Linked DNA regions of Homo sapiens: region 1 is linked to region 2. The links come from fine-mapping of genetic effects on gene expression. Tissue or cell type: whole blood. Region 2 holds a variant in brackets; the other region holds the start of a gene. All regions are shown on one strand. Distances are from middle to middle.

Region 1 (5,385 bases), 27 kb after region 2:
AAGCTGTCCCAAAGCCCACTGAATCTTTGTCCCAAAGGTCCCTGTAGGAGCCCTGGAAGAGCTTCCTCTGCTATATTGTAATCTCTTTCTCCGTGAATATGTGATGATTGGATGCTTTCAGCCCAATTCTTTTCTCCTGCCTCATGTCCCCTAGAGATCCCGATGGCTCCTTATAAAAGCCATGTGTGTCTTATCTCTTCCCATGCAGTCGCTAAAACCAGAAAGCAGGCTGGAAAACATTTCCCCCAACTGTACTGTTTTTCATCATTTCTTTCTGACACCCTCAGATAACTTGTTAGCATATTGTCTTTCCCCATTCAGTGCCGCCCTCACCGGGTGTTTGAGGGCTTAATGACATCACCCAGGAATTTGTAATTAGAAACAAAAATGCCTCTTTCAAAATCTATTAACACTGGAAGAGGGAAGAAAAAAAAAAACTTTTTAAGTTGCTGGTACAACCCCAAATGAATGAGGCCTCTTCTGACGAGGCAGAAACACTGCCAGCTTTCAGGACACTCCCAGGAAAGCACTGAAAACAAGTCACAAGTAACCTTTCTGGCTGCTGGTGCCAGTGCCACACGCAAGGGCTGACACCGGGACCTGGGATTGGCCTTGGACATTTTATAGGAAATGACACTGCTCTCTTGACTCTCCCTGGGAGAAGTTGTGTTTCTGGAAGCTCCTATAAGTCTCCAAGAAGTGTTGTGAATTTCTATCTCTGTGACTTTTGATTACTGAGTTTTTATTCATTCAATAAATTGTTTGGAGGGCCTCTCGCAACAAGCCTGTTCCTGGGGTCTTAGCTGCTGTCAATGGGGGTCACGGTGTGTTCCTGTGAATAGTAAGACCAGAGCTCTACCGTCTGATAGCCACTAGACATACGTGACTATTTAAATGTAAATTCAGAATAACAAAAATTAAATGAAGTTAAGAATTCATCCCCTCACAGTTGCGTAGCTGCATTTCAAGAGCCCAGTAGCCACATGTGGGTGGTGGTTACCATATAGGACAGGACAGTCCGGGCGCAGTGGCTCGCGCCTGTAATCCCGGCACTTTGGGAGGCTGAGGCAGGTGGATCACCTGAGGTCAGGAGTTTGAGACCATCCTGGCCAACACGGCGAAACCCTGTCTCTACTAAAAATACAAAAATTAGCCAGCCATGGTGGCGGGTGCCTGTAATCCCAGCTACTCGGGAGGTTGGGGTACGAGAATCGCTTGAACTTAAGAGTTGGAGGTTGCCGTGAGCCGAGATCGTGCCACTGCACTCCAGCCTGGGCAACAGAGAAAGGCTCTGTCTCAAAAATAAATAAATAAATAGATAGATAGATAGGACAGGACAGATGCAAAACATTCATATCATCCTAGAAAGCTCTCTGTGCAGTGCTGGACTAGGTAGTCAGATTTGCCTGGGACACTCTGGACTATACCTGCTGTGTCCGCATCATCATCCATAGCACTCTGTTTCACTCTCAAAAATGTCCTGGTATTTCAGCTACCCTTCTACCCGCTGAGCCACACTCTTTGCTAGGACTTCCCTGAAACCCAAACCCTTTGTCTTGATGAATAAGTTGGCAGTGTCCAGCAGTCTCCCCCACCCCATTCCCTCTCACCTATCAAAAGCAACAATTTTAGGAACAGGAAAAAAAAAAATCCAAGTGAAGAAGTTGTCATTTCTCCCCAATTAAATGATTTCCTTGTCAGCGGTTTCACTTTTGTTTTGTATTTCCCTTTGCCTAAAGCAGCTCTGATGGGCGCCCTTTGCCCTGAATCATGCCCACAGATCTCACAGGAAGGAGGCCGTCCCCGGCTTCTCCTGAGCCCTCCCGGCCACCCTCCCCTACTCCCAGCCTCCCCTTCCCGTCTTGCCCAGCAGAGGGCGTCTGAGTTTAATATTCTCAATAAAGAGCATGTACACAATCACTTGGGATTTTTTTTTTCTTTCTTCCAGTGATACTTTTTCTTTGTGAGCAGCAACTGAGGTGCCAGATAATATAGGTCACCTGAAGGACAAGCCGTCAGAATTGGAGATCAGAGCCGCTCAGGCCGGCCGCCAGCTCGTTAGGGAACCGCACACTCAGCTCCCACCCAGCTCGGGACGCCCAGCGGGAGCTTCCCTTGCAAACACCAGCAGACACCATTTTGCAGAACTCTTAAGAAACGCGGGTTAAATGTGTTAGGTACAACGCATGCAGCCAAGACGGGCATGGAGAGCGAGAGGGCTGGCCCGGGGGGGAAGCAAACCTCCTGATGATGGGATTGCTCTTGCTGGGGGCTTTGTAAACAGCCTTGCATCTCACACCTCTGCCAGGCAACAAAATGGTGGTGGCTAGAAAAAATAAATAAATAAATAAACAACGCGGGGGTGGGGGGAAGGTGGCACCAGGTAGGTACCAGAGATGGACTTTTCTACAATTTTCTTGGGCTGTCCGTTACCAACAGTTATTCTCTCTCTTTTTCTTTCTTCCTTTCCTTCTCTGTCTCTCTCTTTCTCCACCCCCCTCCCTCTCTCTCTCTCTTCCCCCTCCCTCCCTCTCTCTTATTCTCCTTGTTACATTCTCTGCAGTAATCTTCCCCCTCCTACTGAAGGGGGCGGAAGACCCAGCTGATTTGACTCCAGCTCCCCCTCCTCAGCCTTGCAAATTCCTTATTGAGCATAATTTCTGATTTGTTTCTATGTATCTTAAGGGGTGAGGTGCTGAGGCAAGTTAAGAGTTCGGGTTATCTTGTTTGCCTGTTTTGGTGCACTGAACATATTTACGAAATGAAAAAGCTCCTTTCTAAATGGGTGTTAACTGCTCTAAGATTCCCAGGAAACGTGTTGAAGGGACATCTAAATGGAAATTGTGCAGTATTACTCCATTGCACCTTTTAGGAAGAAAACAATTGTGGCTACTCTGTTGGGCTCTGGTGGCAGTGTAGTAGTGAGTGATTTGTGTGACTGCGGCACATTCATTTTCCTTTTCTATTATAATCTCACCTTCCTTAAGGAATAAATGAGACCATACAGTAAAGGGCTAAGCAAAGTTGCATGACACAGCTTCGGTAGCAGCTGTTACTGTTTTATTATGTCTTTGCTTCAAGCTCTCTCCCTGGGCCTGGAGCTTAGCTTCTGCACACAAATGCTTGATGGAGAGAGCTCTGTGTTATCTGAATCCAGAAATTCTACAGCAGAGGTTTGGCTCCACCTCACCATTGATTTCCTTTCGGTGATTTTGTAAGTCATCACTTTGTAATGCAATTTCTCTCTGTATGAAACAAACGAGTATTTTTTTTTACCACCCCTTCTGAGACTGTTGATAAAACACACTCGACAAACGTTTTACAGCACCCTTGTGAGGCACTAAGGAATGGGGAGAAATCTACACCTAACCACCACCACCACCAGGCATCCCAGTGTGCTCAGGGCAGCGCCAGTTTTTGCAGAAGTATTAATAGCCCCTCCTTTCACTCCCCCAAGCGTCTTCGATGGGATGGTTAGTTATAAGGTCACGCTACAGAAAACATAACACCAGGCCTGGAGAAGTTCAGAGTCAGGGTGAGAGAAAAGACTGGGAGGAGGAGGTGGGCACTGGAGACCAGATAACCAGAGAGATAACAGATAGATACATAGATAGACAGGTCATAGAGATACATAGATAAGATAGATGATAGATAAGACACATAGATGATTGATAGATGATAGATAGATAGATAGATAGATAGATAGATAGATAGATAGATAGATGATAGATACATACAATATATATAGATGAGTAGATAAAGATAGATAGGTACAGCCAGGCATGGTGGCTCATGCCTGTAATCCCAGCACTTTGGGGGGCCGAGGCAGGAGGATCACTTGAGTCCAGAGTTCAAGACCAGCCTGGGCAACATAACGGGACCCCGTCTCTATTAAATAAATTTTTAAAAAGATAGATAGGTAATAGATACATAGATGACAGACACATAGGTACATAATACATACATAGATGATAGATAGATGGAAAATAGGTAGAGGATGGATAGATAGATGGTAGATAGATACATACATACATATAAATGGGTAGATATAGATAAGTAATAGAAACATAAACAGGTAATAGACACATAGATACATAATACATATATATATATACATACATCAATAGAGAATAGATGGATAGGAAGATGGATGGATGGATGGATAGATAAATAGATACCTGGAGATTAAGAGAAGGAGAAATGAAGCTAAATGAAGCTTCATTTAGCTGAGAAACTGAATGACCGTGGGCAAATGTGTCATCTCTCTGAGTCACTGCTGCTTCATGGGGAAAGCAGGGACCATTGAGTCAGGCCTGCTTCCAGGGTGTGTAGCTGATGAAATGACAGGCACCTGAGCACCTGGCACAGGACCTCTCAACATGCAACTACGGCATAGCAAAGAAGGGATTTGACTCCTCAAGAACCAAAGAGGAAACCTCAAAAGAAAACCATCATAATACATAGAGTTATGTGTCATTTCCAAAAATATAATTATATCTTATGCTTTATTTTATATATATGTATATATACATGTATCTGTATATGTGTATATATATACATGTATACGTACATATATACGTGTATATATACGTATACATATATACACATGGATATATATACACACACATGGATATATATACATATATGTATATATACATATATACGTATATACATGTATACATATATACGTATATATATGAATATGTGTGTGTGTGTGTGTGTGTGTGTGTGTATATATATTTTTTTTTTTTTTTGAGACAGAGTCTCGCTCTGTCGCCCAGGCTGGTGTGCAGTGGCGCGATCTCAGCTCACTGCAAGCTCTGTCTCCCAGGTTCATGCCATCCTCCTGCCTCAGCCTCTCAAGTAGCTGGGACTACAGGCGCCCACCACCACGACTGGCTAATTTTTGTATTTTTAGTAGAGACGGGGTTTCACCATGTTAGCCAGGATGGTCTTGATCTCCTGACCTTGTGATCCGCCCGCCTCGGCCTCCCAAAGTGCTGGGATTACGGGCATGAGCCACTGCGCCCGGCCGCGTTATTATCTTTTTCCTTTGAACTTCACTTGGGGCTGTGGAGAGGACCCCGTCATCATCAAGGTACACGAAGACCTCTCAGATGGCCTTGCAAACTGTAAGGGCTCGACCTGTCTTTCATTCTTAGATTCCATTCCATGCCAGGAACTAACTACACAGCAGGCCAGGAGGGCAAGGGCTGGGGCAGAAGACAAGCACCATTCGACGGGGGCAAGGATGATGGAGTGACGGCTCCTACCTCAGCTGGGGACAGGAGATAAGAGACAGAGAGCACAGAAAGCAGTCTTGCACATAAGATCCCCAAACCTCCCTCTCACATGTAGATACAAACAGCAGAGAGGATCCAGCAC
Region 2 (5,385 bases):
TGGTCCAGTCTTTTCTGGCAAATAACAGTAAAGATGGTTTAGCAGGTCACCTAGTTGGGTCAGAAGAGTCGATGATCACCAAGCAGGAAAGGGAGGGAATAGAGGAATGTGTTCGGGTTAAGTGATGAAAATGGCAGTGGTGGCCGGGCGTGGTGGCTCTCGCCTGTAATCTCAGCACTTTGGGAGGCCGAGGCAGGTGGATCACCTGAGGTCAGGAGTTCAAGACTAGCCTGGCCAACATCATGAAACCCCGTCTCTACTAAAAATACAAAAATTAGCCAGGCATGGTGGCACACACCTGTAGTCCCAGCTACTCGGGAGCCCAACGCACGAGAACCGCTTGTACCCAGGAGGTGGAGGTTGCAGTGAGCCGAAGTTGCACCATTGCACTCCACCCTGGGCGACAGAGCAAGATTCTATCAAAAAAAAAAAAAGGCAGTGGCAAGTAAGTTATAGAAGAGAAATGCTGCTAGAAGGAATTAAGCGTTGTAGTAAATGCGTGCTTATCCTCTAAGCTTGAAGAAGGGAGACGAAAATCCATTTGTTTAAATTCACATCTCAAGGAGGGAGAACCCGGGCTGTGTTGGGTGGTTGCCAATTTCCTAGAACGGAATGTGTGGGGTATAGAAAAAGGAATGAATAAGCGTTGTTTTTCAAATAGGGTCCTTGTAAGTTATTGATGAGAGGGAAAAGATTGACTGGGGAGGGCTTAAAATGATTTGGGAAAACAATTGCTTTTGAGGCTCAGTGACAACGGCAAAGATTACAACTTAAAAAAAAAAAATAAATAAAAAATAAAGGAAGTTGCACGGTTATTTTGCAACACAAGGGGGCGGCAAGGTCCCCATTTTTATCCTGTAATACTGTATCCCTAACAAAGATTTGGTCTCTGCTATCTTACATTATTAATGTTTCTCAGATGGCTGAGGGGCTCGCTTCATCTGTTCCGTCTGACACTTATCTCAAGTGTGTCTGTCATTCCTAATGTTCTCAGGATGTGCTCTGATAAAACCCTCCCCATAACCTCAGTTAATAAAAATTTACAGAAGACTTCTCAAATACCTGAGTTGTTTTTAATACCTGTACAAAGGAGTAAATAGGACCCTGAGTCTATTAAAATGTAATTCAAAGTAGCATATGATTGACTGACAGTCATGTAAACTGTATCTTTCTTTTTCTGATTTAATAAAAAATACATTTACTTCTAAAGTATCTTTTAATTTTCAACTTCAAAGCAGTCCCACTCTATATCTGAGATGACTCTAACTTCTACATTATAAAATCCATACTCTTTCTCCATTATCTTCTTTGGAAGATCATTCTCTCCCAGATCTTCCCGGATTTCCTTGTATATGGGCACACACACACACAAATGTGTGCAGTTGTATGTTTGCATGTACACACACATGCATGTATAGAATAGTGCTGTCTTAGGCCAGGTTGCTTGGAGCAGAGCCTGAGATGGGGATTTGGACGCATAGGATATACTGAGAGTGGGCTCCGAGGGAAAGGGAGTAAGAGAAAAAGAAGAGGGCAAGAAAAGAGTTGGGCAAGGGTTGGTTTCAACTGGAGCATGAATTGCACCACCCAGATAGTTTGACCTTGAGTCAAGGGAGCCAGCCTTTGAACCCTGGTAGGTGAATTCTGGGCTGCCCTGGGAGGTGGGGGGATGGGCAAGCGGCCCCCATTGAGCTGAGAAGCTGGGATGCCTAAGTAACTGGAGGATGAGTGCATTGACAGTGTCCACTACAGATACACACCTATATGTTCAGATACATATTTATACCCATATTTGCATATATATGCACATATTCATATATATAAATATATATCATGCAGGAATAGATCCATGCACTCACACAGTCATATTTACATACATGCAAATAAACACATGTAACTAACACAGATCCACACACACACATTGGCTCACACAAATCTATCTCATATGCAATTCATCACACATTGATCGGAGATAAACATTGAATATACTCTCCTGATGTGGATGGACCTCGACTCTAAGGACAAGTTTGCTGCTTAGGCAAATTACACCACGGCTTTGGCAAATAGGCATTTGGAAAATGTGTTCAGAAAAATATGGTATCACTCAAAACCCAAGCGTAAGTGAGGAGGGGATCCTGAGCTGCTGGGGCCTATTAGCTCCCAGCTTGGACAGGTCAAATTCGTGTTTCCAATAAAGACCAGAGGTCTTTTCCTTGCAGCTGGGTTAGTTTTTTCAAACCTCCTGACCATACCTCGAGATTACTCACACCTGTGCCTCACCCAGTTGAGAACTATCTCGTGCCGCTTAGTATCAGAATGCTTAACTTGGCATGAAGCAGGAAAACAGCACTTGGGGAAGCCATTGGTGGGAGGCCCATCACTGCCATCGTCAGAGCACGGGGTGATTCAAGGAAACCAGGCAGCTGCTATTCCTTTGTCTCCAAACACCGTGGGGGTTGTCTGCTGCAACCTTTGGTGAGCTCCTGAGCTGCAGTCCATTGAGGAAGGTGACAGTATCATTTGCAAGTTTCACCTCGCTGGGTACAGGGGCTTTTTGCCCAGATAAGAAATGCCCCTAGGCAGGAGGAAGAGAAACAGACTGAGTAGCCCAGGCCAGTTACTTAGCCAGTTACTAAGGCAGATGGAGCCCTCCCAAGCCCCCACTCAAACAAAACAAAACAAAATAAAACAAAAAAAAAGCCTCTTTGCTGAGAATCTCTCTGCAAAGCATGCCAACAGTTTTTATAACTGGTTTCCTATGCTCCTGGGCCAAAAAAGAGAATAGTCTTTTAATGAAATTGCTTTTTTTTAAAAAAGCAAGAAATGCCAGAGAGAAGTAAAGCGCATGACTTACTGGGAGAACTCTAAATTCAGTTAT[G/A]GCTTAAGAAACAAGTTAATACTCCATTTTTGTGTTTGTGTGTGTGTGTGTGTGTTATTGTTGTTGAGATCCCATTTCCAATGCATTTACAATAAATACTAATGCCCACCCCTTATGCAGAACTAGAGTGAAAAAGAGCTGAAACTCACCAATAAACCCAAGAAAGCCTTTAGGACACAGATTCCCAGAAATGCCATCAGACAGAACAAGCAGTGGGGGAAATAAGCAAAGCAAAGGTGGCACACAGAAAAACATGATTAAAAGAGAAAGAAGAATTAAGACCTGGGGGAGGGAGCAAAAATGACTTTCTTATTATTATTATTTATTTACTTATTATTTATTTTTAGGTACACAGGGAAGTGTGTCTTCTCCCATGTCAAGAAGAAGTGGCCTTTCCAGGAATGGAGCTATTGAGCTGAAATGGCTGCCACTGCGCGTACACACACACACGCGCACACACACACACACACACACACCTCCCTTCCAGTTCCAGCTGACGGTGACTTTTTGACTGGTAACCATAAAAGAATTCATTCAAAAGGGCAGTTGTTCCCAGCAGCCAGTGAGGTCCTTCCTGCATTCGTTGTCTTGGAGAAGGAGGCACATAACAAAATAGAAACCAAAATGGGAAGGAAAAGAGAAAGAAAGTGAAATTCCTGGTCTTTGTTGTATGTATCCCCTTGCTTTTTAGATAAATTATCAGGGGTTTAAACACACACTCTCTCCCCTCCCTCCTCCCACTTCACACACACTAGATTGTTCTTGTCTGTTTGCAAACAGTCCAGAAGCACTGGGGTCTCATTAAATTAGATTCTAAGTGTCTTAAAGAATTAGATTTCAAGAAACCAAGAATCTGTGTCCTTTCCCTTCTCAGAGTGCCTGGAAGGGTGCAGATTTCTCCAATCTGAATCTGACAATGTTATTTCTTATGTCAGATAATCCCAAGTAGATCTTATACCTTAAAAAAATAAAATCAGCTACACTACCTACCTTACAGGGAAGGAAAAAGAACTAATTCCAATTATTAACTAACCCAAGATACAAACACAGGGGAAACTAGGGAATGTGCTTTGCAGCAATGTAAGATTATAGGGGTTGGTTTTAACCATCCTTTGAATGTCCCTCTTTAAGCCTTTTTAAAGGGCAATTTTGCACGGTGAGTAGAATTAGGCTTCTCCGTGGTCAAGATTTTGTTCACTCTATCAGTGCAAATTAAGTGGCACCGGCCCACTGGAAATTATAGTCTCCATTAGGAAGAAAAGAAATTACTTACCGAGCAGCAAATTCTCTAAATTTGTAATTCAGATCTTTAGTGCAGAATGCCGGTCAGGATCCAGCCCTTTGCATAAATTGGTTTTCTGGGGAGTTTAACCCCTTAGCCTCTGTTGCCCTTTTCTTGAATGGCATTCACGCAACCCTCTCCATCTCCTGGCCCTTTAACTGGCCCCGGCAGAAGTTGCAGTCCACAATTTCACAGAAGTAAGGATAATACATTATCACACATTACCGTTTATAAAGTGCTCTGGGTACAATCTGTAATTTAAAGCTGTATTTCCCTCACTGAACTTAAGTGCTTCCTTTGTTACATTTCATTACCGGGGGACTGGCATGCACCTGTATAGATTTTTTTTTTTTTTTTCATTTTTTGTTTTGTTTTGTTTTTCCAAATAAGCACTTCTTGACAAAATGGCCCCCAGCTGCACTTCTGCTAATGACAGCCATGGAAGGGCTGGTTCCTTACGTGATCTACTCTCTCAGAAGCTTGCTTTTGTCAAAATGCAGCCACGTGGGGGAGCTGCAGGACCTGGGGTTTTACAATGCCTAGCCCTTTTTCCCTGATTGCCTAACCGGGAAACTGGGCCAAAGCAGCCTGAGAGTGTATTTGTTGATTAACTTCTAGAAAGCAGTCAAGTTTAATTAGGAGAACTAGAACGAGAAAGCTGAACTGGGCAAGTCAGTTGCCTTCTATGATTCTCAGTCCTCCAAATGAAGATAAGGTTGGTTGGTTTGTGTTTCCATCCTTATCTGCTCTATCTTGGAAGAAGCTCAAGGAAGATTGTGTGATTGCAAAACGTTTCAGTTGGTGTCATTGCAATGCATTTAAGTAATCCTTACTGGCCCATCCTGCTCCACAAAGCAGCCTTACCTCTCATCTTCTCCACTCCCAACTAAAGAGCAAGTGATTTAAACTCTGAGTGTCCTCCCTCAACAATGGGCTAATAATAGAGCCTACTCGTGGAGTTGCTGCCAGCATGCAGTGAGATGGTGCATACCAAACATTTAGTGCAGTGGCTGGCACATTGTAAGCACTTAGGAAAGGCAAGCTATTCTATCATGGGGAACTTTTAGCACCAAGTAACAGAAAACCCCTACTTGAATTGGCAGATAATCGTAACAATAAGGGTATTTATCATTTCATATAATAGGTGTTGTATAACATCTTTGGCTTTGATTCTCTGAGACTCTCTTCCAGCTAACAACGATAATGAGGAAATGTATCGTTTCAT

What was found.
Region 1: BCAS1-AS1 starts here. The variant in region 2 is fine-mapped to the expression of BCAS1-AS1 in whole blood (INTERVAL, PIP 0.99).

The regions. Positions count from the first base shown.
Region 1 is chr20:53,912,423-53,917,807 of GRCh38, reverse strand. BCAS1-AS1 (BCAS1 antisense RNA 1) reads right to left here and starts at 2,319. Exons shown (of 5, transcript NR_199019.1): 1 at 2,242-2,319.
Region 2 is chr20:53,939,365-53,944,749 of GRCh38, reverse strand. BCAS1 (brain enriched myelin associated protein 1) reads left to right here. Exons shown (of 13, transcript NM_001366298.2): 13 at 1-1,209. BCAS1-AS1 (BCAS1 antisense RNA 1) reads right to left here. Exons shown (of 5, transcript NR_199019.1): 3 at 4,152-4,318; 4 at 3,355-3,465; 5 at 1,169-2,575. Among named protein-coding and RNA genes, the nearest start is that of BCAS1-AS1, 27 kb to the right of the region's middle. The variant G/A (reference allele first, on the strand shown) is at 2,879.